Linked DNA regions of Homo sapiens. The protein of the gene in region 1 binds, or shares a complex with, the protein of each later gene. Each region holds a gene or a part of one and is shown in the gene's direction. Other genes may lie near its edges. The genes, in order: MCHR2 and PMCH.

Region 1 (15,727 bases):
CTTTCCTGCCACTTCTGTCATTGGCCAATGGGCTCATTAACAAAGTAGCCATGATGGCAGAGATGGTGGTTATGCATGAGCTCGGCAACATGGACTTCTACTCACCAAAGTCAACTTGGATATGGCCACAGTTGAGTGCCCAATCTGCCAGCAGCAGAAACCAACACTGAACACCAATATGACACCATTCCCCATGGTTATCATCCAGCTACCTGGAGGCAAGTTGATTTCACTGAACCAGTTCCATCATGGAAGGGGCAGTGTTTTGTCCATACTAAAATAGAAACTTACTTTGGATACAAACTTGCTTTTCTCACCTGCAATGCTTCTCTGCCAAAACTGTCATCTGTGGATTCACAGAATGCCTTATCCACCATCATGGTTTTCCACACAGCATTGTTTCTGATCCAGAAACTCACTTCACAGCAAAAGAGGTGCAGCAGTGAGCCCATGCCCTCACCAATGCAGGTGGACATTATCCCATTCATTGAGGGCTTGCACAGAACAAATAGGTGGACTAATGGTGAATTCACTGTCCCCGTTTGAGCTGGGGCATCTGTCTTCTCCTGCCCCTGGACATTGGAGCTCCTGGTTCTCCGGACTTAAGGAATTAGACCAGGAGTTACACCACCAGTTCTCCTGGTTCCCAGCTTGCAGATGCCAGACCGTGGGGCTTTTCAGTCTCCACAATCATTATATGAGCCAATTTCTATGATAAGTCTTTATCTATCTCTATATCTATCTAGCTCTAATCTAATCTATGTATCTACCATCTACATTCTATTCATTCTGTTTCTCAGGAGAACCCTAACACAGAAGGGTTGCAGGATGGACTATGGAACATGGAAAACAGGAAAAAAGAGAAGGGCTCAAGAGACTGTGATCTCTGAGAAAGCACACCTTTGCTGTAACAGCAAAGAGGGAGAGATAGATGTTTGTGGTCAGAGAACAGAGTTTAAGATTTATGAGGTGGAGAAGTTCAGGGTAATAACCAGTTCTGGGATAGGACCTGGATTATGTTTGACCTATGTATAATGTCAAGATAGAGATTATTAAAAGACACTGAGGAAATTGCCATTATTCACCTTTTCAGGTGTATCCTAACTGGGGGCCTAACATAATGTCATAAATTAGGGTAAGAAATGTATTTTAAAATTGTCATGTAGTCTCTTTGTCAGTAAGCAAAGTTTGCCTTAGCCCATGTGATTGACCAAAAACCACTTGTAGGTCCTAAAATTTGAATGAATAAATAGAAGTTAGGAATCACATGCCTGTGTGCAATCTAATGGCTTGAGCTGGCACTTAGTTGGCACTGCCACCAAGTGGCCAGTCGGGAGAACTGCATTTGGTGTTAGAGCTAGTTCTCAATGAGGTATTTGCCGTTCTGAGATCCGACTCTCAAGCTCTGGAGCTACCAACTCTCCAGGGAAATATTTGTGTGACAGCTTTCCAGTGAAATGTGCAATCTGTCAATCCTTTAGATGAGAAAGTACTTAAAGGATGTAGCTTGATGGATGAACTACTCTAGCATAGTCACAGTTTTTTCTCTGACAATTTGGGAAAAGGTTGTTTTCAGAATAACTGTACACTTATAAAAACAGAGACTCCAAACATTGAAAAACAGAAAAAGTAAGCATATTTGATGATACCCTTTCTATATACAGACCTGAGTCTTCAGATCCTTGCAAATTTCTCAACGGGGAAGGACATTGCAGCATGGCAGACCACATGGATATACACGGGGAAGCATCATGAGCATGGTCTGTCCATTGCCTTTTGCCTGTGTCTTGTGTAATGGAGCCATTTTTACTAAATACACGAGGACACTATGTACCTTTGAAATACATACTTGAAAGACAAAAAGGTGAAATTGGTCAGGATTGAGAAGCAAAGAGTAAACCAGTGGACCTGGTCCAATATCTCCTTGACTCTACTGTGGATCTTCATTAAAATTAGGAAAAAAAATGGTGATTGGGAGATGAATAGCTACCTTCATTTACAAAACAAATTCCACAACTATTAATATTTATTGAGTACTTACCATGGGCCAGGTAAGTACTTCCTATATAAGGTAACATCCATAGTGCTTACCATGTTCTAAGTGATGGAGACACAGTAATAAACAAAAGAGGCCAAAGTCCCTGCCCTTGTAGAGCTGACATTCCAGTAGACTGAGGTAGATATGATTACCCCTGCACCACAGATGAAGAAGCTGAAGCTCAGAAATGTAGCAAGTAATTGACCGAATGAGGTATTAGGCACTGGTGTGTTCTACAACAAAATCTGTGGTTGTTATTTTTATGCTAGGAGCAAGGAGGTGTAATCTCTGACCCTTTGTTACACCTGAGAACTGTGCCATAATGATCATTACAGAAGGCTTTCAGACATACACAATATCGTTGGCACCTGAAATCTTTCTTTAAACTTACCTTATGAGAGTCCGTTTTGCTAAGTGTCTCCACATTCTTCTGTGACTTTTTTTAAAATTATACTCTTTAGCTGCTGATGAGGTGGGCACAGCGGCCGTTGGCAGCTGCTGCTTTGGGTTGCTTTGTCAATCTCTGCCCCGGTCTGATGTTTTCTACAGGGAGATGCCTTGGATCCAGGTTCAGGGATTAAATAAACTTGTCAGCTGAAGATGAAAAAAAAAATTATACTCTTTATTACATTATATTGAAATTAACTTGTGTATGTCTGTCTCCCTCATTGAATTGTGGGCTCCCTAGAGCAGAACCATGTCTTATTTATCTTTATAACCAAATCAAGTTCAGGCACTGGCAAGAGTAGGAACCAGTGGTACAGAATTTGCAAACACTAGCATCTTTGAAATGCCCCATTGACTAGCAGTTTCTGCCCACCTCAAACCCATTGCTGTATCCTGATCAGTTCCTGACAAATTCTTGTTGGCTTGAACTTGTTTGAGCTTTAGTCTGTATAGGGGGAATGGAACTGCCAATGGAAAGAGAGATAGACTACGAAATCTCACTTTTCAAGTGGATATCTTTTCTTCTGTGAGTATAATACCTCTAAATAGCCTGAAGGACAGAGCTCTCTGCTACCACTTATGATCACATAGTGCTTTGCATTGGATAAATTATTTTTACATTAATCACATTTGTTGCCTTATGAGGTGGGTAGGGCAAGTTTTACTTCCTCATTTTATCCATAATGAAGTTGAGGCTCAAAAACATTAAATGACTTCCCTCAAAGCACACAACTTACACAAGGGGCCTTTAGACTTGATTCCAATCCATACCTAGACCCATTACATAGATCTGTCTTCCCTACTGTACTGCTACTATGAATTTTATCAATTCCACTATAAACATGTTTTATAATCTGGAATTTGTCAAATACAGTATGCCTTTGTTATTAGATAGTGGAGCTATTTTTACTCAATACACAAGGACACAATGTATCTTTGAAATAAAGAGATGAAATTCACCAAGATTGAGAAACAGTAAACCAGTGAGTTCTCTTCAATTTCCCTTTGGATTTATGGTGGTGCTACACTAAAACTGAGTAAATTAAATCATTCTCTGAATATCTATTCCAGTAAAATGAAGGTCATTTATAAATTATTTATAAATCATTATAATTCAAAAATAATTCAAAAAACAAATGTAAATATTAAATGCAGGCATTTAAACATTTCACTCTCAAAGAATGAATGCATGGGAGGTAAAGGATATGAGGCTAATTTGATGGGGACATGAAATGGTAAAACCTTAGAATTCTGAGCTACTGCCCCCCAAGAAAGATATTAATGTGCACACAGGAAATTTCATGGCACCCACATTTCTGCTCTGTTTTCAGCTGTTATCTCAAAGACAAAGGGAGCAGACTATAACACTCCCATCCCTTTCCCACAGGGTGAGCAGGACTAATAGGTGGCTGCCCCGTTAATCCATTACACTGGCATAAGATATAACTAATAGTCCCACCAGAACAGTAGGCATTAATTGGGATTGTCCCAGATAAACTGAGATATATGGTAACCCTTGTAATAAGAGCATGCATTTCCCAGAGCATTTGGGGAGGTAATTATCCCTATAAACTCTGAAGCCAAAGCGAAACTTGTGCAAATTAATTGAGACTGAAAACCAGCCCTGGTATTTCTACCTTAGCCCAAGAAGCACTGGAGACATAGCAGAGGGTTACGGAACCTGATGCAGCAGGAGAAATACAGAGTGGATTAAGCCAAAGACAGTTCATTTAAATTTGTTTCCTCAAAGTTTCTCATAATTCCTAAGGATGGAGTTGGATATTAACATCCACTTTCTCTATTTATATTATACATAGTTTATTATCTATAACTAGGCTTAGGAAAACTGTTTAGTAGAGTATGTAGTTCTCATTCCAAATATTAAAGGCAGTAGTTCACAGTGAATCGTGGTGATTGTCTCTCTTAGAACCCAAGGTAAAGCACCCTTCATGTTTTTTCAAAGAATAAAAACTAGGCTGTATACCTCAACTCACTAACACATCACAATTCTGCTAGCCAACATGAGCAAACTCATAAAAATGACTTACTTTAAGAATACTCAATTAACATGTCTTACTTCTATCTTAAGAATGCATATCATACTTTCATTTCATTTGCACTGTAACTATTCATGTGTTTATTTTCACCACAAGATTTGAAGGTCCTCATTGGCAGGGATGATATCTTGTTCATCTTTGTACCCCTAGTATCTGGAATAATTCTCCAAGCATTTTATTATTGGAAATAAATGTCTTTTAAAAGTACCACTTATAAAATGAAAGATTTTTAAAATGAAAGAATTTTACTAACGCTTTAGTTAATAGATAGCACCTTACCATAGACCAGCCAGCTAGGGGCAAATATAGTGAGAAGAAAGAAGTCCACTTAGAAGAAGGAAGAAAAGTATAAAAGGTCAACTGATTTTTCACTTTGTTTTAAGACATTCCAGGTCATAATGTTTTATGCTTACTGAGACAGCTTATATGATAAGCTATGACCATTCTTCAAGAAGTTGGAAAGAAATAAATTCTTGTACAAACATCACTGCCAATGGTGTTGAACATGAGCACCTGTGTTTGAAATGAAAGCACAGGCCAAGGCCCCTTAGGGAATATAAACAGATATCAACAATGCATCATAGTTACCAAATTAAATGAAAAAGGAGGTGTTTTCTATATGTTTCCTGAAACCCATGTGTTTTCTTTTGTGCTTGAAAGCAGTCCCAAGCCTTGGCATTGTGACTAAGCTTGAAAAAGAATTCTCCTGAAAGTGCTCCCCATTTCTCAAAAATTAAGAGAAAAAGAGATCAGCCAGTATTTTAGGTTATTCATTCTCATTTTTAACACCAACATAGCTGCTAAGTAATTTTAATAGCAAATATTAGTCATGTTATTTGAAAAAAAGAATTTAATTAAAATTGATCAATATAATTCATTGGTCATTTACTTAAAAAATGAATGTTCTTTATACTGATTATAAAATCATTCTGAAATTTGGCTAGCACCAGAAGTGGAAAATAATTCTTACTCATTTAGAAATTTAGAGCCATACCAGACAAGTCACTGATGTGAAATTCAGCAGCCATGAGAAGGTAAATGGGGATTTACTAGTAAGTAAACTTTATGAATCTGATTGATTGGTAAGGCTTGAAAATCATTGTCAGTTGTTCTAAGAGTTCATCCACGTTTCTTAATAGCAAGTTTAGGACTTAGGCAAACTGCTCTTCTTTGTTTTTTTTTTTTTAATCTAAAGTGTATATTTTATATAATATTATTATAATATAAAGGTAAAAAATGAAATGAGTTTGGGAAGTAATGAAATAATGCAGTCCTTCTCAGAGCCTTTAATATATTAATGTGGGTTATGACTCTGAGAAGAGGGAGTTATATGTGTCCCAAACTCTTTTGACTATTATATTAGTTATCTACAGCCACAATAATTCCAGATGGCAAACCACACCAAAATTCAGTGTCTCAGAACAATCTTCATGTATTCTCACAGAGCTGAAGTTTGACTGGAACACTTCTGCTTCAAGCAGCAGGCCTGGGAATTTGTGTTTTCTATGCTTCTCTCATCCTCCTTGGCCTAGCAGGCTAGCCAGGACATGTTCTTCTTGGACAATGCCAGAGGTACAAAAGAGGCAGTGAAAATGCACTAAGTTTCTTAAGTCCTACTCCTAAAATTGTCATACTGTGTCTGTAATCCATATTCAACTGGACAAAGCAAGTCACATAGCCAAGCCCAAAGTCAGGGAGTGATGAAATATGCTCCATCCATGGTGAGGCCATTGCAAGGAGTGGATCCAAGGAGGGGTTAAAGAGCTAGGACCAACAATTGTCTCACAACAAAACTCTTTGTTTATGGATCATCTCATGGAACTAGTGCTCCACAGAACACACTTTTGGAAACACTGCAATATCTCACTGCTTTTTATGCAATGCTTATGTTAGTGGGCACAAAATGACATCTGACTAACTTTCTGAGAATTTCCTAATTCAGGCTAATTTCCTGAGATGCTGCAGCCTGAGAGACAATTTAAAATATTATAATCTAAATGGAACCCACTACTAGATTCCTAGCAGAAATTCTTCTTGTTAATAGGTCTTTAAAATCCCTTCTGTTGTGAAAACTCAATGAAAATTCAGCTTATAGAGTCAATATGGACACAGCGGGTTCAGTTTAGAGAGAGATCATTTTCCTAGAGAGCCTCAGTCAGGATTCTGCAAAGGATTTTGGAGGGAATCAGATGCTTTGATAGGAGTGGATGATTAAGACTAAGTTCTCAGAGACTGTGCTTCGAGGAAGTGCAGAGCCAAAGACCAAGCTGGGTAGCAGATGATTGCAGAGACAAGTAATATCCCAGCCCAGGCCAGTGAGGAGCTCAAGAACAGCCTGGGTCCTCAGAAGAAAGCCATGCCAAGTCAGCAGAGAGATGTTCCTGAACAATCCCTTAATGAGAAGGAATAGAGATCAGGACCTGCTGCGGACACTCTGCAGTCCATGGTATATACACGTTTGGAACACAATAAGCCTCATTCTCATCAGCATGAGGGGTCAGTCATTGCACCAATCTCTTTTATTTTTATAAAACCAGAATTAATGAGACTCACCAAAAATCCTTGAACCAAATGAAAGTTTTTCTGATAAGCATAGTCAGAAGTCTGTAGCCATAGCAGGACAACACCAGGTCAGCCGGAGCTCTGCCCACAAATCCACCTCCCAGCACATAAATTGCCAGTAACCTGAAGAGCTTTGTCTGACAAACTTCCCAGTTTCCAGCTGAGAAAAAAAAGGCAGGGACTTTACAGGGGTGGGGTTTTAACTGGGCATTCTGGCTCTCCTACTGCTATCTAAAGAATGTTACCTCATCAGAAAGCTCAAGGTCCAGGGTGAGAATTAGGTGGGATTCTATTTCTGGTTCAGCCTCTGTTTCACTGTCTATGGTTTACTTTAACTTTTAACCTCAGTTTCTTTATTAGTAAAATGGGATAACACCCATCTTGTGTACCTTCCAATTATTATAAAAATAATGTAATGATACCTTTTAAAGTATGCATAAAAAGTGGCACCAAAATGTAAGGTAAGGCCACATATCCTCCATTGACACCAATAGAAATTGTCAAACTTAAGCAAGGATGCAATTAAGCCTCATATGCTAATATTTCCCTAAATAGTGACGTCTAGCACAGGCTTTTTAGCCACCAATGCTCCATAAAACACAATACAATATATTGGGCTAGAAAAAAAAAGTATTCTTCACTTTTCAATTTAGCAACAACAACAAAATGAGATTTATTCATCCTTCATTTAGAGTACACAACTAGATAGAATTCGTCAACATCATCATCCTCATCATTATCAATCACTGGAACAAAGAATTGAAGTAGCAAAAATTGGCATTGCCAATATTCCTGTCTTTTTTAAAATGGATTGCCTACAAATGAGAAATTCAAGACAAGCCACTCTGAGTTTTCTTTGAAACGACTTAACATTTGGTCAGGGATAGGAAAGTTGAACAGGAAAATGTACATCAAAATTTTAACTTGGAAAAAAACATAAGGTGTATAAACTTATAGTGGACTGAATTTTTATATTATTAGAGAACTAGAAAAGGCTTTTCCACAAGGGTATTGTAGAGGGCGTTTAGATAATCAGCCTAATAAATGGGTCAAGTGTTTCTTCTTGTTTTTCTTTCCTAAGAGATGCTTTGAAATCTCCCACTTTGAAATCCAAATTCTCTTTAAATTTAATCTCCCATCCTCATATCTCCTTGATTTTTCTGAGAGATTTTAGAGATGATGTCTTTTTGCACAAACACTAACTCTAAGGCGACTTCCAGTTCTGAAATGTATAATCATTGACTCTACACTTGCTTTTAAAAATTCTGATCTGTTGAATTTTGAAATTTTAACCAATTTCACTAACCTTTCAAGTTTTTCTCATTTTCCTAACTTAATGTGAAATACAGGACATTTTGCCATGCCACTCTGACTACTCATCTTATAGATGAAGGAAGGATTCTGAAAGGTGCTCTAATGACTATAATTATCATAGGGACCACATATTGAGCACTAACTACATGGCAGGCCTGATTTGAGGGCTTTTGCATATGTCAAGCCAGTGAAGCCTCTTAGCATCCCTGGGAGGGCAGTTTTACAATTCTGGTAGTACCAAATGAGCAACTGAGGATGAGAAACATTAAAGAACCTGCCCGAGGTCATATGCCTAACAGTAAATGATAAAGCTGAGGTGGAATGCGGGGCGGGCTGCCTGTCTCCAAAATCGTATGAGGCTCCCTTGGGTGGAAAGTGATCCAACTCCAGCTTCGTCCTTGTCACCTTATTTGCTAAGTAGCTACTAAGGCCAGCAGATTTGATCAGGGTGCAAGCATGAAGCTAAAGATCATTATAAAGCAGTTGTACTGGGTGGATTAAAAGTTCGTGAAAACAAAACAAGTTCCTTGGTGGTATTATGGGTTTCTTCTTTCCTCTCTCCTTTCCCCTTTCCCTTCCTTTAAACCTTTGGTACATCAATAAACACTTGTTCATATAAAATGGAGGTCGAGTTTCTATTACTGCTTAGCTGAAAACACCTACAAATGTTCACAGGAACTTTAGTGACTACCAGTCTAGATAAGCACTTGAAAATAAGAAAGAACAAGCTCCGCGAGAGCAGAGATGCCTTCAGATTTTATTCGCGAAGGCACCCCACGCTCCTAGAAAAGAGCACGACGCACCCGATGCTCGGATTGGATGAAGTGGCAAAGGTAACCCCGCTGGTTCGGGCGTTTGGCTGTTCCTGTGCCTGGACCCCCGCTTTGGAAATGGAGGTGGGGCTGGCTCCCAACCTGTCTCAGAGACCCTCGCACTCCTCCCCCACCTTCCGTCAGCTGGGACCCGCTGAGAGCCGTTTTTGGTCACGCGCGCTTAGCGGATAGACCTGCAGTCCCGCAGAGAGGAAGGGCGCCCGGGCTGTCCGCCGCGCGGGGAGGACGCGAGCACCCAGGTGACGTCCCGCGGGCTGCCGCGCGAGGGCCGGGCTCTGGCGTGGGCGCGCCCCAGGGCCCGTGGGCTGCGCGCCCGGGAAGGTCTGGCGCCTGGTCCACCAGTCGCCCCTCCCCGGGGCTGGCTCGCCGGTAGTGTCTGATTGCTGGGGGATCCCCCTCCATCCCCAGAAGGTACAAAGTTTGGCTCTGTGGAGGCACCTACGAGACGGAGCGGGGCGGGTGGGTGGCCGGCTGGTTTCACACTCGGCAAAGAAAATGGAAACACAGGTGGGAAAAGAAAAAGGGAGTGGCTTTCCGGGAAGCAGCGGCCCCGACCGAGACCGCTGGAGCGCGCCGGGCTAGTTCATCCCGGCTCTCCATGGGGACTAAAGAGGCTGAACTGAAGTGGCGAAGGCGAGGAGGCGATCACTGGCTTGTTTGCTAAGAGTTCGGGAAGGCTTTTTTGAACTAGAAAAGACAAATTCAGTTCTTCCTCCAGGTAGATCCCCGTGTCCCCTGTACGCGCCTCCGGACGGCCTTCTGTGAAGCCCCCATTCCCACTTAGTTAACTTAGTTAATATTATTCCTCTGTCACAGGACTCCTGCACGGTCAGGTCATCTGAACTCCTCAGTGGCCCTAGGGAAGTTAGTTAGCGGCTGTCAGAGAACTGGGGAAAGTAGGCAGGTGGTAGCCTAGGCCCTTTGCAACTCAGCTGGGGCTTCTGACAGCCTTTGAAAAATTCTTTCTAAAAATGTGCTTCTTGTATTTTTTAATGAGGCTTTGCCCCAAAGCCTAATATCTTTGTTTGAGGTGGAATCTTCTTATTAAAATGGCCCTGAAGCTACCACTAAAGAATCAGGCATGAACACAAAATCTTCTGGATTTGAGGAATGCGCAGTTCTAATTTCATAGAACTTAGCTCAGCGCAAATGGGGAGGCAATCTGTTTTCAATGAATGTTTTCTGACTTCTTAATAATGCATTTTTCTACTTAAATAATAACCTGTTTGTTAGTATAACTTAGTGGGTAGAGATGGGGGGGTGGGGATGCTGACTGGCTGGAAATGACTGGATTGGGTTGGTAACCCATTATTTGTGTTTCATTTGGATCAGGCATATGTTTAATGTCACAATTGAATTGGCCTTTTGCAGAGCAGACATGCCCTCACTTACTGTCTTATGGCTATGACAAGATAATTACAAGGGCAATGTTATTCGACTCTTAGCCTAACACAGACTATTAGACTGCACAAAGCATTCCAATTACAAGAAAAAAGTTTTTCAAGCCTGGGGAATAAAGTACCACCAATGTACAGGCCACAGAATGTTTCTGAAATATTAATGTAGTTAGTTAAACGGAGATTGAATAGGGAAGGAAAAGCCACCAGGCACTGTAAAGAGGAGCCAGGAACAATCCTACGGGTCCAAGATGCTGTGAGAGAACCAATTTCATTTTTAGTGTCAGCCTGGCTCTCCTCAAAAACTAGAAATAGATTTTGAGGGGAGGTCTGTTGTGTATACTGCTAAGTCCAGTGTCTATTTTGAGAGGCAAGCCTGTAGATTTAACCCAAGTTGTGGGCTAAATGCATAAGAGGCAGCAATTATCCTACCAGACCCCAAATTCCCCAGCCTAGCACTTTAGTCCTAGAGTCAGGTGTGCGGGAGGGAGCCTCCCCCTTCACAGGACCTTTGGATGCCCATTAGAACTATGGCTCAGGACACTGTCTAGTCAGAGGTCCTAAATCCCTGCAAGGGACAGTCACAGCTCCCACTCCACAAGGGATGGAAAATGTCCCTGTGCCCTGAAGATGCCGGGATGCCTCTGCCTTCCGCAGTGACACCCCCTCACCCAACATGACTCCTCTTCCTTCAACCCAGCTGGAAGAAACCCAAGCTATCACTTATTCAGCCTCCAATTTACTCATCTCCAATCCCTTATGCATTTATTTTTAACATTCTGATTCTCAGAAATGAAATGAAATATATACAGGTGGGGAAATTAGAGCAAAGCTGGAAATGAGAAGAAGAACCTTCTTCATGCCTCAGGGCTGAAGAAAAGAAAAACACTTTTGTCAAGAGCCTGCTCTGTTTTAGGCAATGTTCGCATGCCTCATTTCTTTTTTCTTTTCTTTTTTTTTTTTTTTTTTGAGACGGAGTCTCACTCTGTCACCCAGGTTGGAGTGCAGTGTCGCGCGGTCTCTGCTCACTGCAAGCTCCGCCTCCCGGGTTCTCGCCATTCTCCTGCCTCAGCCTGCAGAGTAGCTGGGACTACAGGCGCCCACCACCATGCCCAGCTAATTTTTTGTATTTTTAGTAGAGACTGGGTTTCACCATGTTGCTCAGGATGGTCTCGATCTCCTGACCTCCTGATCCACCTGCCTCGGCCTCCCAAAGTGCTGGGATTAACAGGCGTGAGCCACCGCGCCCCGGCCTCAGATGCTTCATTTCATTAAATCCTCACGATAACTATGTAGAGAGTATTATTCTCACCTCACCTATGGGGAAACTGAGGCTCAGACAGGTTGGTGACTACCTAAAGTCACACTGCTAAAAATGACAGAGCCAAGATTAGGTCCAAATTTATCAAAGTCTTCTAGGAAGGCCTGTATGCTTTGCTGGTGAGGGCTGTCAGGAAAAGCCCAAGCAGCTCTGTCCTCCAGCCCCATCTGTCTCCCAGCTTCCCTGAGGAGGATGCACTGAGGCTAAATCTTCCAGAAGCTGTGCCTGGAGAGCATGTATTCACCGCTAGGGTCTCCTGTGGAGGTCCTGGGCCCCATAGGCGGCTCTGCTCCCCTCTTTTCCCCACTCTTTATCTCCATGCCCGCACCTTCTCACTCCTCTGACCCCAAACTGTTCGATGCTACAATTTCAGAACCATTGGCATATGCCCTTTCTCTCCCTGGGGTTACCACCCTTTCACCACATGCTTGGGTTTCTTCTTTCTGTCCCATCCCAACATTATTGGGAATCTCATAAAGACCCCTCCAAATAAAGCAGGAGATGCATATCTAAGGACATACTAGATGTGGCTCCAAGGTCTGAAGAACCGAGGGCCTGGAGCTTCCAAGCAGCTGATACCCTGATCATCAGGGTGGGAAGGAGGAGAGGTGGATACTGAGGCCTTGGGCAGGGTCCAGGATTGGGTCTCCTCTGTCTTGGTGAAGGGCAGGAAGATAAGAAAAAAAATGTAGAGAGAGACAGAGAGGAGACAGAATTATGTAAATGGCTTTTATCCAGGGAAAAGTTTATGATTATAGAAAAGTTTTTAAAAGTTAGATTGATTGTGTAAAATTAATGCTGATGAAATGACAGTCTTTTGTAAATTTCTTATGACTTACAGCTAATTGCCATGCAGCTCAGTAACAATTGTGTATTTCATTAAATACAGTTCCAAATAACTTTACCGTACATTTTACTTAATTAACATACATTTTTAAATCTTTCTATACTCTCAGGACTAATAAAGTTTCTCTTGAATACTAGCTTCTGGCATGATTATCTGATCATCATTGAAGTAAATGAATACACACACACACATACAGGGTAAATGAATACACACACACACATACAGGGTAAATAGTGTGTTTATCCTATGACTCTAACATTAAGAGAGACAGATAGAAACCACTTGTTTTATGAGAACAAGTTTTATCTTTGGGATTTGTATTAAGCATGTAAAATATTGGCAAAGCTTTTGCTATGCTGAACTCAAGTCTGACACATTTAGTAGCTCATTACTCCAATTTTAATGTAAGGTTGCAAAACACTGAAATCTCATCACCTGGGTCCCACCTTGTTCTAAATATACCTGACATCCCAAACCTTCTAAATAATTGAGCTAATTCATTTACAATGCTCTGCTCACTTTCATTAAGATGGAATTTAGTTTTTTTTTTGTTTTTTAAAGCCAATGAACTTGCAAGTTTACTTGGTTGAAAATGCCTTTTAATCTTAGAAATGTAAAAAGATTATATATTGCTACTTAAAAAAATCTAGGTGAATTTTTTCTCCAACTAAAATTCTTCGGAAATTTAAAAGAAGCTGCTCTCTTTGAGGGAGATTATTTCACGGAGCACATATAAAAACATTTTTTCAAATAAAAATGTTATAAAATTGTGTACTATTAAGGCATTTCATTGCATAAATTCTGCCTAAAATATTTTATATTTTCAAAAAGTGGAAGGTGAGTACAGTTTGTTGTTTACAGAGAGCCTCTGTATCAGAGACTTATGTAATGTTCTTGAAATATGTCTTGATTCTTTCAAGCAGCAGTGATGGCTTATTAAGCAAAGTCTATGTAGCTCTTCAGGAGCAGTTTTGGACCCTAAAGAGAGAGGAAACATTTCAGGGGGACCATTGTTCCCATCGTCTTCTCAGGGTAGAGGTCAAAGGTCAGCACATAGTTTTAGAGCCTGACAAAACTGGGTTCAATTTTTGGCCCTACCACTCACTTACAGAGGAACCTGAGCAATATCCTCACCCTCTTAGCCTCAGTATTCTCTTTGGCAAAATGAAGATAATAGTAATTTTACCTTTGATCTGACTGTGAACTTTAAATGAGGTAATGTACATAAGGTACTTAACACAGTATCTGGCACATTACAAACATTCTATAAATCTTGCTTAAAATTGGTACTTTACCTCTTTATCTTGTTTTTTATGTCTTCCTTCATGAAAATCTAGGCAATAATTTTTTTTGAATTTGATACAGGGTCATGCTCTGTCGCCCAGGCTAGAGTGCACTTACACAGTCTTAGCACATTGTAACCTCAAACTCCTGGGCTCAAATGATCCTTCTGGTAGGTAGTAATTTTAAACCTGTGGTGTATTTCATATGATCTTAGACCCTCTTTCAGCCATTGGAAGTGCTTGTTCTTAACCTGTGTTTAATATTTATTTTTCTCATAGGAGTCATAAGTGTTTTCATAAGTATGACTATGTACATGCATGTGGGTAAATATCGATTTAGCTCATGGAGACATTCAGGCTGGTCTCTTAATTGACTCATAACGGCCTTGAGAAGCTAACATTAGTCATAAATAAATACTACCTGATGGCCATTCTGGAAGAGAAACCCAGTATGCCATTCATTATATGGAAAAAGTTATATGCCTGCTGGTAGCAACTTGTGCCCAATAACAATCAACTATTAGAAGATGCACGTAAAAAAGATGGAGTGATGTGTCTTCTAATCCTCTATAGTATTTAAGAATGTTCAAAAGTGAGAGGCAGAGGGTAAAAGGAAGGTCTTTCTGTTCTATTTCTACCTATGAGAAATGTTGTTGATTGATTATCTCGTTTTTCCTTGCCTTGAGTTTGGGTGGCTCTGAGTTTCAGGCAAGTGTGTGTCCATTTCTAGCCCTGTGGGTGGGGGGATGAATTGAGATTATTTTAGACCAATTACTGTAATTTCACTCCTCCTACCAATGCAATGATTGGTTTGGCAAAGAGCATGTGACACAATTCCAGCCATTGATACTTGTGGGCCAGTGTGCAAAAGAGGCTGCTGGGAAAGGACTGCACTTTCTTTAAAATGTCCACAAAGAAGGGATGGTCCTTTCTGGCTTTTATTGTGCTTACATGAGGATGAGGACTAGCTGCTGTAATCATCTGGTATCCCTGTGGGGACCATCCTTGGAAAAGATTTGTATACTGAGGATAGCTGCAGTGGAAAAGAAGGAAAAGACCTGGACTCTGATGTCACCATTAGGCCACTGAAATAAGCAATCTTGAAAGTACCACCCTGTCTTCCCCTGTGAAAGTCTACCCTATGGACTTCACTGTTATGTTTAAGCTATTTAGGGCTGGGTCTTCTGAAACTGACAGTAGGAGACAGCCCAAATGATTTACACACCAGCCATAGAGAACCAAATCAGAAAACTCTTGCAATGAATCCATCCCTTGGGACATCAAATGAGTTAAATATTCTGCTGAAGTCTATGGCTGCCTTAGTTCCAGAGATGCAAATAATCCCTAATGATTTTTAACTTAGCCTCCTGTTTTAAAGCCTTTTTGAAAAAATGATTAACCCTCTATAGACTTGTTAGTCTCTTGTTTCCTTTTCTTTTCTTTCAATATTGGCCTGCCAATCTTATCAATAAAAAATAACCTTTTGTGCCCCCATGAAAAATTTTAAAACAGTGTTTATTTTGGGGTGCTAATGAAGTGACTTCAGTCACTTTTATATGTTTATCCATTTATTTCAATTTTTATTGTTTTTTAACTCTTAATTTCTTATATTTTGCTTACTTTTTCTG
Region 2 (14,950 bases), on another chromosome or scaffold:
GACTAGCCAGCTATCCCAGAACCATTTATAGAATAGGGAGTCATTTCCCCATTGACTATTTTTGTCAACTTTGATGAAGGTCAGGTGGCTGTAGGTGTGCAGCTTTATTTCTGGGTTCTCTGTTCTGTTCCACTGGTCTATGTGTTTCTGTTTTTGCACCAGTGCCATGCTGTTTTGTTTACTGTAGCCTTATAGTATAGTTTGAAGTCAGGTAATTTGATGCTTCCAGCTTTGTTTTTTTGTTTAGGATTGCTTTGGCTATTTGGGCTTTCTGTTGTTGTTGTTCCATATAAATTTTAGAATAGTCTTTTCCAGTTTTGTGAAAAATGATATTGATAGCTTGATAGGAATAGCATTGGACTTGTAGATCGCTTTGGACAGTATGACTATTTTAATGATATTGATTCTTCCAATCTGTGAGCGTAGAATAGTTTTCTATTTGTTTGTTTCCATCTGGGATTTCTTTCAGCAGTGTTTTGTAGTTCTCCTTGGGGAGATCTTTTACCTCTTTGGTTATTTGTATCCTAGGCGTGTGTGTGTGTCCATGTGTATTGTAAATGGAATTGCATTCTTGATTTAGCTTTCAGCTTGAATGTTATTGGTGTATAGAAATGCTACAAACTTCTGTATGTTAATTTTGTATCCTCATACTTTACTGAAGCGCTTATGAGTTTCAGGAGCCTTTTGGCAGAGTCTTTAGTTTCCTAAGTATCGAGTTATATCATCAGTGAAGATAGTTCGACTTTTTCTCCTATTCGCATGCCTTTTATTTCTTTCTCTTGCCTGATTGCTCTGGCAAGGACTTCCAGTACTATTTTGAACAGGAGTGGTGAGAGTGGGCATCCTTGTCTTATTCCAATCTCAAGGGGAATGATTCCAGTTATTGTCCATTCAGTATGATGTTGTCTGTAGGTTTGTCAGAGATGGCGCTTATTTTTTGAGGTATGTATCTTCAATGCCTAGTTTTTTGAGGGTTTTTATCATGAAGGGATGTTGGATTTTACTGAAAGCTTTTCCTGTGTCTACTGAGATGATCATATGGTTTTTCTTCTTAATTCTGCATATGTGGTGAATCATATTTATTGATTTTCATATGTTGAGCCAACCTGCATCTCAGAAATGAAACTTACTTGATCATGGTGAAGCAATTTTTTATGTGCTGCTGTATTTGGTTTGCTAGTATTACGTTGAGGAGGTTTGCATCTGTGTTCATCAGGCATATTGTCCTGTAGTTTTCTTTATTCATTTTGAATGTTACCCCTAAAAGAGTCTTGGCAGATGTGACTAAGAATCTTGAGATGAGGAGATAATCCTGGTGGGCCCTAAATGCCATCACATGAATCCTTATAAGAGAGAGGCAGAGGAATATTAGGAACAGACACAAAGAGGAGAAGGTCATTGAAGACAGAGCAGAGGATGCTACCACAAGGCAGTGAATGCCAACAGTCACCAGAAGCTGGAAGAGGCAAGGAAGGGCTCTCCCCTAGAGTCTCTGGAGGAAACACAGTCCTGTCCACGCATTGATTTTGGGCTTTTGTTGCCTTAAGCCATCAAGTTTGTGGTAATTTGTCACAGCAGACCTAGGTAATAAGTAAATACTCTATCATATTCTAGAACCTATCATAGTTTCTACCATCTGTTCTCTTAATGAAAAAATAATTCATACATTTATTACATGTTTATTGAAAGGCTACTATGTGCCAGACTCTGTTCTTGATACTCTGTTCTTGATACCATCTCCCTCACTGGCATTAGAGGAAATGGACAATAAGCATGTAAACAAGTAAGATAATTTTAGACAGAAGCACAGTGAAGAAAATAAAGGAGTGAAAGGAATAGGGAAAGAATGAGTGGGAAGGGGGCTCCTTTAGCTCATAGGGTCAAGGAAGCACTCTCAGAAACCATGATATTTGAGCTGAGCATCACAATAATGAGTGATAAATGCTCAGATAAATAACAGGAGAAAGATGCTCCTGACAAAGAGAATAGCAGGGAAAAAGTCTTGCGTCAGAAATGATCTTGGCATATCATAAAAACAGAAGGCCAATATCACTAGAGAGTGACGAAAGAGGGACAGAGTAGCAAGAAATAAATTTAGCAAGGAATGCATGGTCCAGGCCATGTAGGACATTTGTATCAATTATCTATTACTATAGTAATATGGTGTAACACATGCAAAACTTCAGAGGGTATACAACAATAAATGTTTATGTCTTATGCTTTTTGGGTCAGTTGGGCATCTGCTAGGCAGCTCTACTGACCTCAAGTGGACTTTCTCCAGTGTCTGGTGCTTGAATGGATGTGTGCTGATCGAGGATAGCCTCAGCTATGGCAGTTAGGGTAGCATGGCTCTCCTCCATGTGGCTCTCTCCAGCAGGCTAGCATGGGAATGTTTTCATGGTGGTGGCAGAGGCTCAAGAGGGAATTCCCAATGTGCAAGACCATTTCAAGCCTCTGCTTGCATGATATCTGATAATATCTCATTAGTTAAAGCAAATCACATGCCTGAAACCAGAGTCAAACAGTGGGCAGGTTACCCCACCCACAGTGGGAAGGCATGCCAAAGTTACATGGCATGAATATAGAGAACAATGAAAAAGTGAAACCATGAAGGCAAGCTTATGCAGATATTTAGGGCCTTGATAAATTAATAAATATAAGAAATAATTATATTTAAACAGGATGATAATGTATTACACATGTTGGAGTTCAGACAAGAGGATTTGGCTGTAGTACTCAGAGAAAGCTGCAAAAGGAAGGTCTTGAAGGATATTTTAGATATAGATAGGTGGAGGGACAAGATGAGGGTATTTTAAGAGCAGGGAATATCATAAACAAAGTTATGATGGCAAAAAAGGACTACAAATACATAGAATGAAAAGAATGGCATGTATATCATTATCAAGACACTTTCATCTGATCCAATCTCTATCACAAACAGAAGAAAATGAAGCAGAACAAATGAATCACATGTTCCTCCTACATAGTAAAACCACTACATTTCAAAATGTTTTCAGTCTAGAGTTCTCAATATAAGTAGAAATGTCTGAGGGTTAAAGACATCCATGAGTACAAACATAAATTCCTAACATGTGTTAGAATGAAGACTCAATACACTACTTACCATAATGGTGAAGAAACCTGAAATTATGAATCAATGTATACAAAATAACAAGCTTTGTTGGTAACCCAATGTTGAAAGCTATCATCAGATTGTTATTCTCGAAGCATACTATCAGATGACTCCAAAAGTACTCAGAATCAAAACAATATCCAAGAATCATCTTTACAAGGTAACTGAAAAATTTAGCCATGAACATCATTTCAAGCATGTTCACATAACTTTTTTTTTTTTTAATTGAGATGGAATCTTGCTCTGTCGCCCAGGCTAGAGTGCAGTGGTGCATTCTCAGCTCACTGCAACCTCCACTGTCCGCATTCAAGAGATTCTTGTGCCTCAGCCTCCCGAGTAGCTGGGACTACAGGCACATGCCACCACAGCCGGCTAATTTTGTTTTTTTTACTTTTAGTAGAGACGGGGTTTCACCATATTGGCCAGGTTGGTCTTTAACTCCTGACCTCAGATGATCCATCCTCTTCAGCCTCCCAAAGTGCTGGGATTACAGGTGTGAGCCACCACGCCTGGCCTTACATAACTCTTAATGTTACTTATATCTTGATTTGTGGCAAAAAGATGTTAAGGCAATTTTCAAGATATTAGTCTACAGCTCTAAAAATTGGTGATGTGTAATTCACTACAACTGGTTTCTTCATTTCACTTTTAAAATAATTCTGTTTGGATGACACTAAGAGCAACATACCATCCAGTAACGAGATCCAGGGAAGCAGCTAGTCCACTAGTACTCATAGACAGAGATGAATTCAAATGTGCATATAATTAACCAAAAAGAGGAAACTATATCCATAATTCAAATCCACATTGTTGCAAAATAAATATTTAAATCAATTCATCCATGTTTACCAGCTGTAACAGTGGAACAAAGCTTGAGGATATCCACGTTCCTACTCAACTGGTCTCACAGTTACTGGACTAATTACAGTGGAGCATCATAAACTCTCCCTGTGTCTCCCACCCCACTATCTCACAAACCAACTGCATTGAGCATGGTGAGAAGATACCTTACCCACTCCAATTCTTGGAGCAAAACAAGAGCTTAACCATCTTCACCACTCTCAGCTGGCCCCCATATCTCGCGTCTCTAAGTACTCTCTACAAGCCCACATGCTGGAAGCCTTGGATCTCTCTTCTGAGCCTTCAAATTAAAAACAAACAAACAAAAAAACTCAAGTTGACTCTTCTCAAAGAAAGAAAAAAAAACTGGAGGTCAACTTACCAACCAAATTCAAACTGTCTCAGAAGGATAACCTCCTAATTTTATTGCTGAATTCTGAGTGGCCTAAACGCCTACCAGGAGCTACCCTTCCCTGCCAACTACATCAACTCCACACACACACACACACACACACACACACACACACACACCTTCTAAGGGAGTGTCAGGACTAATTCCCTTGCTAGCCAAATTACCACACCTTGTTCTCTCTTACCCTTGCTCTCCATCCAGATATGAGCCCCTCTAGATATCTATCCTCCCACACTTTCATCTCTAAACAGCACTGTGTTTCTTCTCTCTTCTCTCTCCAATCTTTGTACTATACCTTCTGAATAACAAATACCCTTATAGCGTTCTCCACTTCACTGATCCCATTACCACCACACATACTTAAGAGTTGGGAAGGAGGATGAATGTCTATTTTATTCCATACTGTTTACAGCATGTAAATCCTTTTGTTACTTGAGTCCCACAAATTCAGCATAGCCACTTCTTATCATGCTACAATATCTTCCATCTTTAAATAGCAATAGCCAACTCTCTTCCATCTACAATCTAATTTTTCTGCATTCTTCAGTGTAAATCGGTGACATACTATTTATATTCACTGTTTCCATTTGTTCTCTTTCCATTCTTATTAAATTCTCTCCTATCAAGGTTGAATCTCTACCAGTGTCATTGAAACTGCTTCATTAAGGTCAGCAATGACTATCACATAGCCAAATCAAAGATAAATTCTCAGTTCTCATCTTACTCAACCAGTAGCATTCAGCACAGCCAATCATTGTGCTTTTCTATATTTGAGATGATCGTGTTTTTGTCTCCTGTATTCATTTACAGTGGTGAATTTTACCAATTTTTTTCTGAAAGTTCAATTTTACATTCCTGAAATAAACCTCACCTGGTCATGAAATTTTACCTTTTTCATAACTGGATTCTATTTGATAACATTTTGTTTAGGATTTTTACATCCATGTTCATTAGAAATATTGGCCTATAATTTTCCCTTCTTGTAATAGCATTATCAGGTCTTGGTACCAAATTTATGCTAGACTCATAAAAAGAGTTGGGAAGTGTCCGTCAGAAGTCAATCACAGAAGCAGAACAACACACATACATATTCACATATACAGAAATATATACACAATTTGTTACATAAATCTGTCTCATGCAATTGTGAAAGCTAATTAAGCAATATTAAGCAGATCATTCCATCTAATGCTGGAGTCCACAGGGCAGGCTGCCAGGAAGGAAAGATGGATGTAAAGTAGGGAAGAAGAAGAACATACTGGAATTCACCAGCATGAGCTGAAACCCATGAGGATAGACTGAAACTCATATCATATCTTGCTGCATCTGACCTCAATGGTATGGATGTCCTCAGGACAGCTAGTCTCCTTTGTCACAGAACTGCACACATGTGTCCCAGGAGTCAGAGAAACTGAAAGTGGATCCAGCGAAAGTGGAGCAGTCGCAGGTCTGACTGCTGCAGAGCCAACGACATGAGCCAGCAGATAAGCGACATCATGTGTGAACCGTACGTGACATCTGCTTCACTTCTGCTCTCCAATCTTATACAGGAATGTCTCATGTGGCCCACTCCAGTTGGAAACATAGATAAAGAGAAGAAAATTCTGGGGTTGGGGGGAATTTCTGGGGTGGGAGGAATATATATGTAATATATATAACTCTTACAACTCAGTAATAAAAAGAAACATCCCTCGCCCAACAAAATGAACAAAAGATCTAAACAGACACTTCACAAAAGAAAATATATGAATAGCTAACAAGCACATGAAAAAGTGCTCAACATCATTAGTTATTAGGAAAATGTAATTAAAACACGATATCACTACTCATCTACCAGAATGGCTAAGATTAAGACTGACAACATCAAATGCTGGTGAGGATGTGGAGCAACCAAAGCTCTAATACAGTCTTTGTTGAAGTATAAAATGGTACAATCACTTTGGAAAATAATCTAACAATTTCTTACAAAATTAAAGATACATCTATCTTATATCCTAGCAATTCCATTCCTATATATTTACCCAAGAGAAATAAAAACACATGTCCACAAAAAGACTTGTGCAAGAATGTAGATAGTGTTATTCGTAATAGCCAAAAACTGGATACAATTCAAGAGTCCATTAACAGGAAAAGAGACAAGTCAATTGTAGTATATTTATACAACGGTAATAAAAAAGGAAGGAACTACTGCTTCTTACAACATTAAAGATGAATGTCAAACATGCTGAGTGAAAGAGGCCTTCCATAAAAGACGTCATACTGTATATTTCCAAAATAGGCAAAACTAATTCACAGCAGAAGAAATTAGAACAGTGATTGTCTAAGAGCAGAGTTGGAATGACGGGTGGGAGTGGGGAAAATGGTGGTACATGTAAACTCTAACAAGGTAAGACATAACTTTCTGGGGTGATGGCAATGTCTTGTATCTTGAAAGGACTTTGGGTTTCATAAGCAAACACATTTGTCAAAAATTAGCAAATATGCACTTATAGTTTATGCATTTTACTTTCCATAAATTTTACTTCAAAAAAAAGCTGTAAACAACTATTAAATTCCAGTTAATGATACGTATGTTGAAGTATTTCATGAAAAGCATACTGATATATGCAATATCCTTTGAAATGCATTAAAAGAATAAGATGATTAATAAAGGGATGAAGGGATAGAAGTAAAACGTTAATGGTAAACGCTAGGTGAAAGTGTATGGGTTGTTTACTATAGAAATCTGAGAAGGAATTTTAAGTTTTCTTATATCTTTTGATAATTTATATAAGTGAGCAATCTTGTTTTTACACTCATACAATTAGCCACTAAGAAATTGATGATTCTCAGTAAGCCAATGGCCAATTGCCATTTAATTTACTGGTGACACATAGCAAAGATGTGTTAATTGGAACAAAGAGAAATTTAATAAAGTGACTTGCAAATATACAGTGTTAGCAGTAGTTCAACAGAAAATGAAGATCATATTTTATATAAGCCTTTTGCCTTTGTAAGGTTTACTGAACCACCCAAGCCCATCTGGCAATAGTTTTACTTCTCCAAAGTTCCCTTCTACTACTTGGGGACATACCATTTTCAGCATCAATGAAAAAGAAGTCTACTATGCTCCACTGCACATCACAGTAACCAAAGTTTTTTTTAAAAAAAGTTATCATTAAAAAAATTGGAAACTATCTCCATAATTAAATGGTTATGGCAAAACCTCATAATGCTCAGAGGCTATGACAGTTTAAACAAAATAAAACATTAACTTCTCTAAACCGTCAAAATCATTTGGATTTGGTCCCAATTTTGAGTGAAGATCAGCCAAGCCAATTCATCCAGTGGAAATTTAAAACAAAGTACATAATTATTAATATTTATTACCCTCCCACAACAGCATCTAAGAAAAAAGATTTCCATTAACAAGGACTTTTTTTTTTTTTTTTTTTTTTTTTTCCAGACAGAGTCTCGCTCTGTCGCCTGGGCTGGAGTGCAATGGCACCATGTTTGGTTCACTGCAACCTCCGTCTCCTGGGTTCAAGCAATTCTCCTGCCTCAGCCTCTCCAGTAGCTGGAATTACAGGCACCCACCACCATGCCCAGCTAATTTTTATATTTTTAGTAGAGATGGGGTTTCACCATGTTGGCCAGGCTGGTCACAAACTCCTGACCTCAGGTGATCCACCCACCTCGGCCTCCCATGGTGCTGGGGTTACAGGCGTGAGCCACCGTGCCCAGCCTAACAAGGACTTTTATAGATTAAACAGGCACATCCAAACCAGGTTCAAACCAAGGGAAACAAAGTAGGGCACAACTAACAACATTAAAAAGATAAGGAAGCTCTAAGATCAAAGAAGTCAAGGGATGTCAGAGTCCTTTGTTTATAATTATAATCACAAAACATTTACTGAGAAAGATCTTAATAGTCCCCGAGAAAATCAGCAGTTAAGTCTACCTCAGATAAAAAGTACTTAAGTGAAATGGACAAATTATACAATAATGTAAATTCCTAAAACAAACTAAAAAAGAAACAGAGAAGCTAAATGTTACTACAGCTACTGAAGAAAGTACATCAATTCTTAACAACAAAAATCCTACCAAGAAAACACCAAACCCAAAGTCTAACAAGAGAGAAAAGAAAGAAGGATAAATCTTGCCCTCAATGTAAGAAATTGGTACAAACTTAATATCAAACCAAAGTCAATATAAAAAAGGAAAATTACAAATCAATCTTACTCATAATAAATGTAAAATGTACTAAATCAAATATTGCCAAATTGAATCCGATAATTTAAAGGTTTCTTCATGAACACATGGTTAGTTTAACATTAGAAAAATCTGTTAATATTTCCAAAGACTGAAGGAGAAAATGATCTGGTCATCTCAATATATGCAAAAAAAGCATTCAATAATATTCAACAACAATTCATGATAAAAACTATTAGTAAGCCAGAAACAAAAGAGAACATCCTGTACTTTATAGCAAGTATCTATAAGAAACCTACAGCAAACATTACGCTCAGTGGTGAAGCATTAAAATCATTATCTGTAAAATCAGTAACACTGTAAAGATATCTCTTCTCTCCATTTTCAGTATTTACTGGAGGCTTTGGCCAGTGTGTATGAACACATGAACAGACACAAAGACATGTATACACAATATAGATGAAGTTAGGAGAAAGAGATAAAATGCCATTATTTTATCATTTATATCAATTGTCTTCATACAAAATCCCAAAGAATCTATACATTTATAAACAATTAAAAAGAAAAAAAAATAAGAGTTTAGAAAGTTTTTTTCTGTTATCAAATTACTATGCACAAGCCAAATGCACATGCACATACCAGCAATAATGTTAGAAAGATCATTTCAAAATACAATTTATAATAACCAAAAATAAGAAATTCAATTAAATTATAAAGAATTATAATTCTCTCAACAAAGGTATGCAAGACCTTTATGAAGAAAAGAAAATGTCATTAAAAGATTAAAGAAGAAAAAAAGATTAAAGAAGATCTAAGCAAATACAGAAAAATGTCATGCTCATAGATAATAAATTACCTTCAGGATATCAGTTCTTCTCCAAAATTAATCTATAAATCTATAAAACCAATGTGATTATAAGTTGAGCATCCCAAATCTGAAAAGCCAAAATCCAAAAATGCTCCAAAATCTGAAACTTGTTAAGCATTAACAATATGCTAAAAAATATATATTCATTGAAGCATTTCAGATTTCAGATTTTGGGATACTTAACTGATATAATGCAAATGTTCCAAATTCTGAAAAAAATATCCCAAATCCAAAAATACTTCTGGTCCTAAGCATTTCAGATAAGGGATACCTAACTAGAACCTTAATATCCTGTCAAGTGTTCTTACGGAACTTGAAAAGCTGATTTTAAGATTTATATGGAAAAGAAATGACTAAGAATAGCTAAGGAACTGCTGTAAAAGAAAAACATGTGGGTAAGTAGAGGGCTGGGAAATTTGACCAGATATTAAAAATTATTTTAAAGTTATATTAATACTGTAGATTTGGCTGTGGAATAGAACGTTCTGAAAGGAGCCCACACATATATAGAAATCTGATATACTGTAGAGATGGCACTGCAGATTAGTGGGGACAGGATGACTTCTTCAAGAAATATATAAGGACATTGGAAAAAGTAAAATTACATCTCTATCTTATATCATACACAAAATTACAGATGAATTACAAACCTAAACATGAAAGTCAAAATATTTAAACTTTTAGAAGAAAATATATGAAAACACGTTAATAATCTAAGGATTGAGAAGGATTTCTAAAAAAAAACAACACATTAAAAGTAGTTGCCATAAAGAAAAAAGAAAAATATTTAAACATTAAAATTAATCAGTTTGGTTCACCAAAAGACACCAGAGGGGTTGAAAATATGTCACAAACTGAGCGAAAATAATTGAAACATATATAACTAACAATTAATATCCAGAATATATAAAGAACTCCCATAAATAAATTAGAAAAAGACAACCCAATAGAAAAATGGACAAAGCCAAAAAAGAAAAAAAAAAAAAGCATTTAACATAAGAGGAAACATAAATGGCTCAGAAACATATGGGAAGACACTTAACCTCTTTGGTAATTAGGAAAATACAAATTAAAAGGACAATGAGACACAAGAGTCAGCTAGGACATGGAACAATGGAAATTCTCATACCCTGCTTATCGAGGGCACAAATCGCTTACAACTATGTTGGAAAACATTTTGGCATTAGTAAAGCTGAACATATACATACTCCATGATCCAGTAATTCCATACTGAGAAATATACTCTAGAAAAATTCTTACATATATGTACCAGAAGACATATAAAAGAATGTATTATCTTATTCATTGGGGTCAAAATTAGAAATTAACTCTGAAATGTTTAATTAAAAGTCATACAACATAAACTCATCATCCAAAAGTAATGTTTATGGGCACATAAATATTCTTTTCATGGACTAATTCATTAATTTCTAAATTCATTAATAAATATTTGTACATATTATCCTTTTGTAAATGCAGAGATAAAATACACCTGACAGGTCAATTTTTGATATAGCATGAATGGCTTTTTGTTCACACTGACAGGCATATGTACTTTAATCACCAAAAACTATATCAAGTATTTATAAAAGAAAGTCTCTTTTGAGGATTATTTCAGTTTAATCAGGATTAAAAGGAAATAAAACTTTATCCTTATCATCCTTGAGTGAAATAACTTGAGTTTTAATATCTTTACTTAATCAGAAAATACACAAAAGGAAACAATAATATAGAGAGAGCCTGATGTCCTGTGGTCTTCCTTAATAACAACCCATTTTCAAGAGACTATAATCTACTCAACAGAAAGCATTCTACCAAGGATCTTAGTCAGATTCTGAGAAAATTCACACTCAAAATAAACAATGTGTCACTAAAACCAAAACAATGTAGGTATTAGCAGCTGCATAAAGGTTAGCCTCAATCTAATGAGTCATTTCTAAAATGATGAAAAGTATAATTCTTTGAAGTGCTTTCTATTCAAGCTAGAAAATATATAAAGATACAGAATCGTTTACCAAGCAGGCTGACAGAGAAATTTTTCATTTTCTTTCTTGTTTGACTGTATGCAAACATCAAACTAAGAATGGCAAAAATGAATCTCTCTTCCTATATATTAATACTAACTTTTTCTTTGTTTTCTCAAGGTATTTTACTTTCAGCATCCAAGTCCATAAGAAATTTAGATGATGACATGGTATTTAATACATTCAGGTTGGGGAAAGGCTTTCAGAAGGAAGACACTGCAGAAAAATCAGTTATTGCTCCTTCCCTGGAACAATATAAAAATGATGAGAGCAGTTTCATGAACGAAGAGGAAAATAAAGTTTCAAAGGTAAGTGGCAATGTGACTTGTCGTTTATTTCAATGAAAATTTAAATGATTCTTACAAATCCTCTGAAAAGTAAAACTGATACTTTTATAAACAGAAGTATATGCAAACAGTCACAATATGCATTAGGACGACTGACGATATTTCTTACATGCCAGGTAGTTCTTCCATCCCAGCAAACACCTCTTATCTGAAAGTGTTTTTTCTCCTATAAATTTGCATCTAAGGTATTTTTAAAAAGTCAAAAACAGTGCAGAGTAACTTTGAATTGATCAACAAGAATATTATACAATTGTATTATAGTTCCACTCCGAATACGATAGCTAAAAACCAAATCAACCTTCTCTTTACAGAACACAGGCTCCAAACATAATTTCTTAAATCATGGTCTGCCACTGAATCTGGCTATAAAACCTTATCTTGCACTAAAAGGATCTGTAGCTTTCCCAGCTGAGAATGGAGTTCAGAATACTGAATCAACACAAGAAAAGAGAGAAATTGGGGATGAAGAAAACTCAGCTAAATTTCCTATAGGAAGGAGAGATTTTGACAGTGAGTAGTCTTTTCAAAATTCAATTCTTACATCCTACCACCATTAAACAGAACTCTGAGTTAAAGTGAATTTGGATGCAATCATAACAAAATCAAATAAGACCATGGCTCAATTACACCTGCCAAAAATGTGGGATTAAATAGCAACAATTAATTATTATCATTTTGGTTTACTCAGAATTAGTTATACTAGATCCATTCTTTTTTTCTTAATAAATTTTGTGTGATAATTATAGTCCTTTAAACAATTTAAACTTTCTTCTTCCTTCAGTGCTCAGATGTATGCTGGGAAGAGTCTACCGACCTTGTTGGCAAGTCTGATACCTGTTGGTCCACATCATCTTTTCAGAAGAAAATAAAAGCATTTAATTGCCAATGGGAGGAGAAGCCCATACTGCTACTATAACTTGTGTATGTTAAATGTCTGTTTTAAAAGAAAGTAGTGTTAAGATGTATCAGTAACTGAAATGATATGCTTTCTCTGTGCATTAAACTTTGTGAAAATTCTGCATAATTATGACTTACTAGTATTTTTAAACAATGCTTAACATACTAACCTTACATACACTGTAGACCAAAATAATAAATCATCATAATTTACACCTTGATCTCTTAAAAATTAAGCATGTCTTTGGTGAATGGTTTATAGATACATAAACCTAAAGCATATAAGACACAAATTTATAGTCTAAAAAACTGAGTTAACTTTGCCTGGCCAGAAATCAACTTGTCCTTGGCAGTACATTTATTACTTTTTGCTACTTTAGCTAGTTTGCCGTACAATCTATTCTGTGAATCATTTGATTTCTTAGGTATTTTAGCATTTTTATGTTGAGGTGGTTCATTTCTATTATCACAGAGAATATTTTCACCATCCAAATCCACCTGTTTCCTTTTTGAGCTTTTATTTCCTGTCTGACTGGTTGATTTTCTTGATACTTTTTCATTTTTACTTCTGTCCAGATGAACATTTCCAAAACTCGTTCCAATTGTTGATCTTCCAACAGATGGATTTACACCCTCTGTTATGCAAGATAAAAAGGGGAAAGGAATTACATGATATTGAGTATTAATATTTACGAGAACTTTACAATAAACTTTAAAAATGGCTAACGAATATTCAAATTTTTAAAGTAAAATAATGCTATAAATAATATGATTGACAAATATAGCTACATTACTATCCTATTACTTTTCATTTTATCATAGCACCTCTGAGTTAGCTTTGGCCAGTAATCAACTTGTCAGCCCTATTAAGAAATATTTGTTTGAATGCATGACATTTAATCCTTAAACATATGCTACAAATTACTTCTTAAATACATTTAGTTAAATCAAACTGTGTCCTATTCCTATCGATAAATTTGTACTTAGATTTAACTTTTTAAATAAACTGAGGTCTTTAAAAATATTACCCTTTACATTTCATAGTACTTTGCAAAAATAACCTAATTTTACTTAAGTTAAAACTAATTAGTAGACTAGAATTAAATTGTTATTTAATTGCACAAATAAGGTCAATTACCAGAAAGGTCATTTTCCATGTAAAGAACACACAAAGGCTTTGATGCTAAATTAACATTATTCCAATTATCCTTGCTTATCATGTAGTCATCTTTATAAGTACAAGCAAATTGGGATCTAATTAAAGTTTGCTTCATCTAGTAACAGAAAGAAAGAAGAAAATATGCAAATTTATTCATTATTTTATTTCTTCATCTAGATAGACACACACTCTATAGTAATCAAGGTATAAAAATTTCCCTTAGAAATTCTATTACTCATTGAGAACCTCTCTCTAACCTTTTATATTTCATAGTTTGCAAACTCATTCATTGTTATGGCTAGCATTTTTGTTCTTTTCCAAAATAATAGCTTTATGTATATTTTTGATTTTTTTTTTGGTAACAGTTACAAAACAATCAATTTTAGACTCTTCGCAGGGCTTTGTTACATGTTCCTGTGTCAGCACTGCTTTGGAGCGTCTTATTGTAAGTAAAATAACAATACAGGTGATATACATAATCATAGAAAAATACAAGTTCTTCATCCTAAGAAGAACACACTCTTGGAAAAAAAATAGCATATGGAATTCAAGAAATTAGGGAGGGAAGAAATGCTAAGATGAAAAAAAGAACTAAGTGAGGTCAATCAAAAACAGGAAACTAGCAAAGAAACTGCAAGATAAAACAAAATGATATAGGAAAGACATTATTTCTCGAGTATTTAGGAAAACAAGAAAGATGATTCAATGTATCAGTCTAGAAAGATTTGACCAAGTGACTTAATGGTCAGAAATCCAAAGTATACTCTTGCATTTATCTTCAAACATCAAATAGGAGGGCCTAACTTTCTACATAAATAGGAGAAAATTACAAAGATGAACTCAATTCTTGATCACTGAAAAGGATGCCAAAAAAAGTAGTTTTGGAAATTTGTTCCACAAACATAAACCAGTGAGCTATTGGGGATAGAAATTAATTTTAGAACAAAGTAGCCTATACAAATAATGCCAATTTCAACAATTACAAATGATGTGTAATACCATTCAGGTTTAATGGAGAGATGTCTCCAAATAATTAGAAGTCACCTGAAATCATTTTCTGACATAGACAAAGTTTCAAA

The links.
Region 2: the proteins of MCHR2 (region 1) and PMCH are in contact, whole or in part, in a cryo-EM structure (PDB 8WST), measured with the Homo sapiens proteins. Residues at the interface, in NP_001035269.1 of Homo sapiens: His82, Gln92, Trp93, Gly96, Gly97, Thr110, Asp113, Gln117, Ile175, Phe177, Val181, Ser183, Cys184, Ala185, Phe186, Leu188, Thr189, Ser190, Pro191, Val194, Tyr197, Thr198, Tyr267, Gln271, Asn274, Met277, Glu278, Gln279, Pro280, Phe284; in NP_002665.2 of Homo sapiens: Leu151 (codon at 12,599), Arg152 (codon at 12,602), Cys153 (codon at 12,605), Met154 (codon at 12,608), Leu155 (codon at 12,611), Gly156 (codon at 12,614), Arg157 (codon at 12,617), Val158 (codon at 12,620), Tyr159 (codon at 12,623), Arg160 (codon at 12,626), Pro161 (codon at 12,629), Cys162 (codon at 12,632), Trp163 (codon at 12,635).

Annotation. Positions count from the first base shown.
Region 1 is NC_000006.12:99,987,699-100,003,425, reverse strand, and holds the start of MCHR2 (melanin-concentrating hormone receptor 2), read left to right. Parts: upstream 1-9,202; 5' UTR 9,203-9,490; exon of another isoform or gene 9,491-9,662; intron 9,663-15,727. UniProt on the Homo sapiens protein: Receptor for melanin-concentrating hormone, coupled to G proteins that activate phosphoinositide hydrolysis.
Region 2 is NC_000012.12:102,194,348-102,209,297, reverse strand, and holds PMCH (pro-MCH preproprotein), read left to right. Parts: upstream 1-11,464; 5' UTR 11,465-11,527; coding exon 11,528-11,776; intron 11,777-11,777; exon of another isoform or gene 11,778-12,126; coding exon 12,127-12,325; coding exon of another isoform or gene 12,326-12,333; exon of another isoform or gene 12,334-12,596; coding exon 12,597-12,646; 3' UTR 12,647-12,839; downstream 12,840-14,950. Other genes in the region: PARPBP (PCNA-interacting partner), read right to left, coding at 13,007-13,347, 13,851-13,986. UniProt on the Homo sapiens protein: MCH may act as a neurotransmitter or neuromodulator in a broad array of neuronal functions directed toward the regulation of goal-directed behavior, such as food intake, and general arousal. May also have a role in spermatocyte differentiation.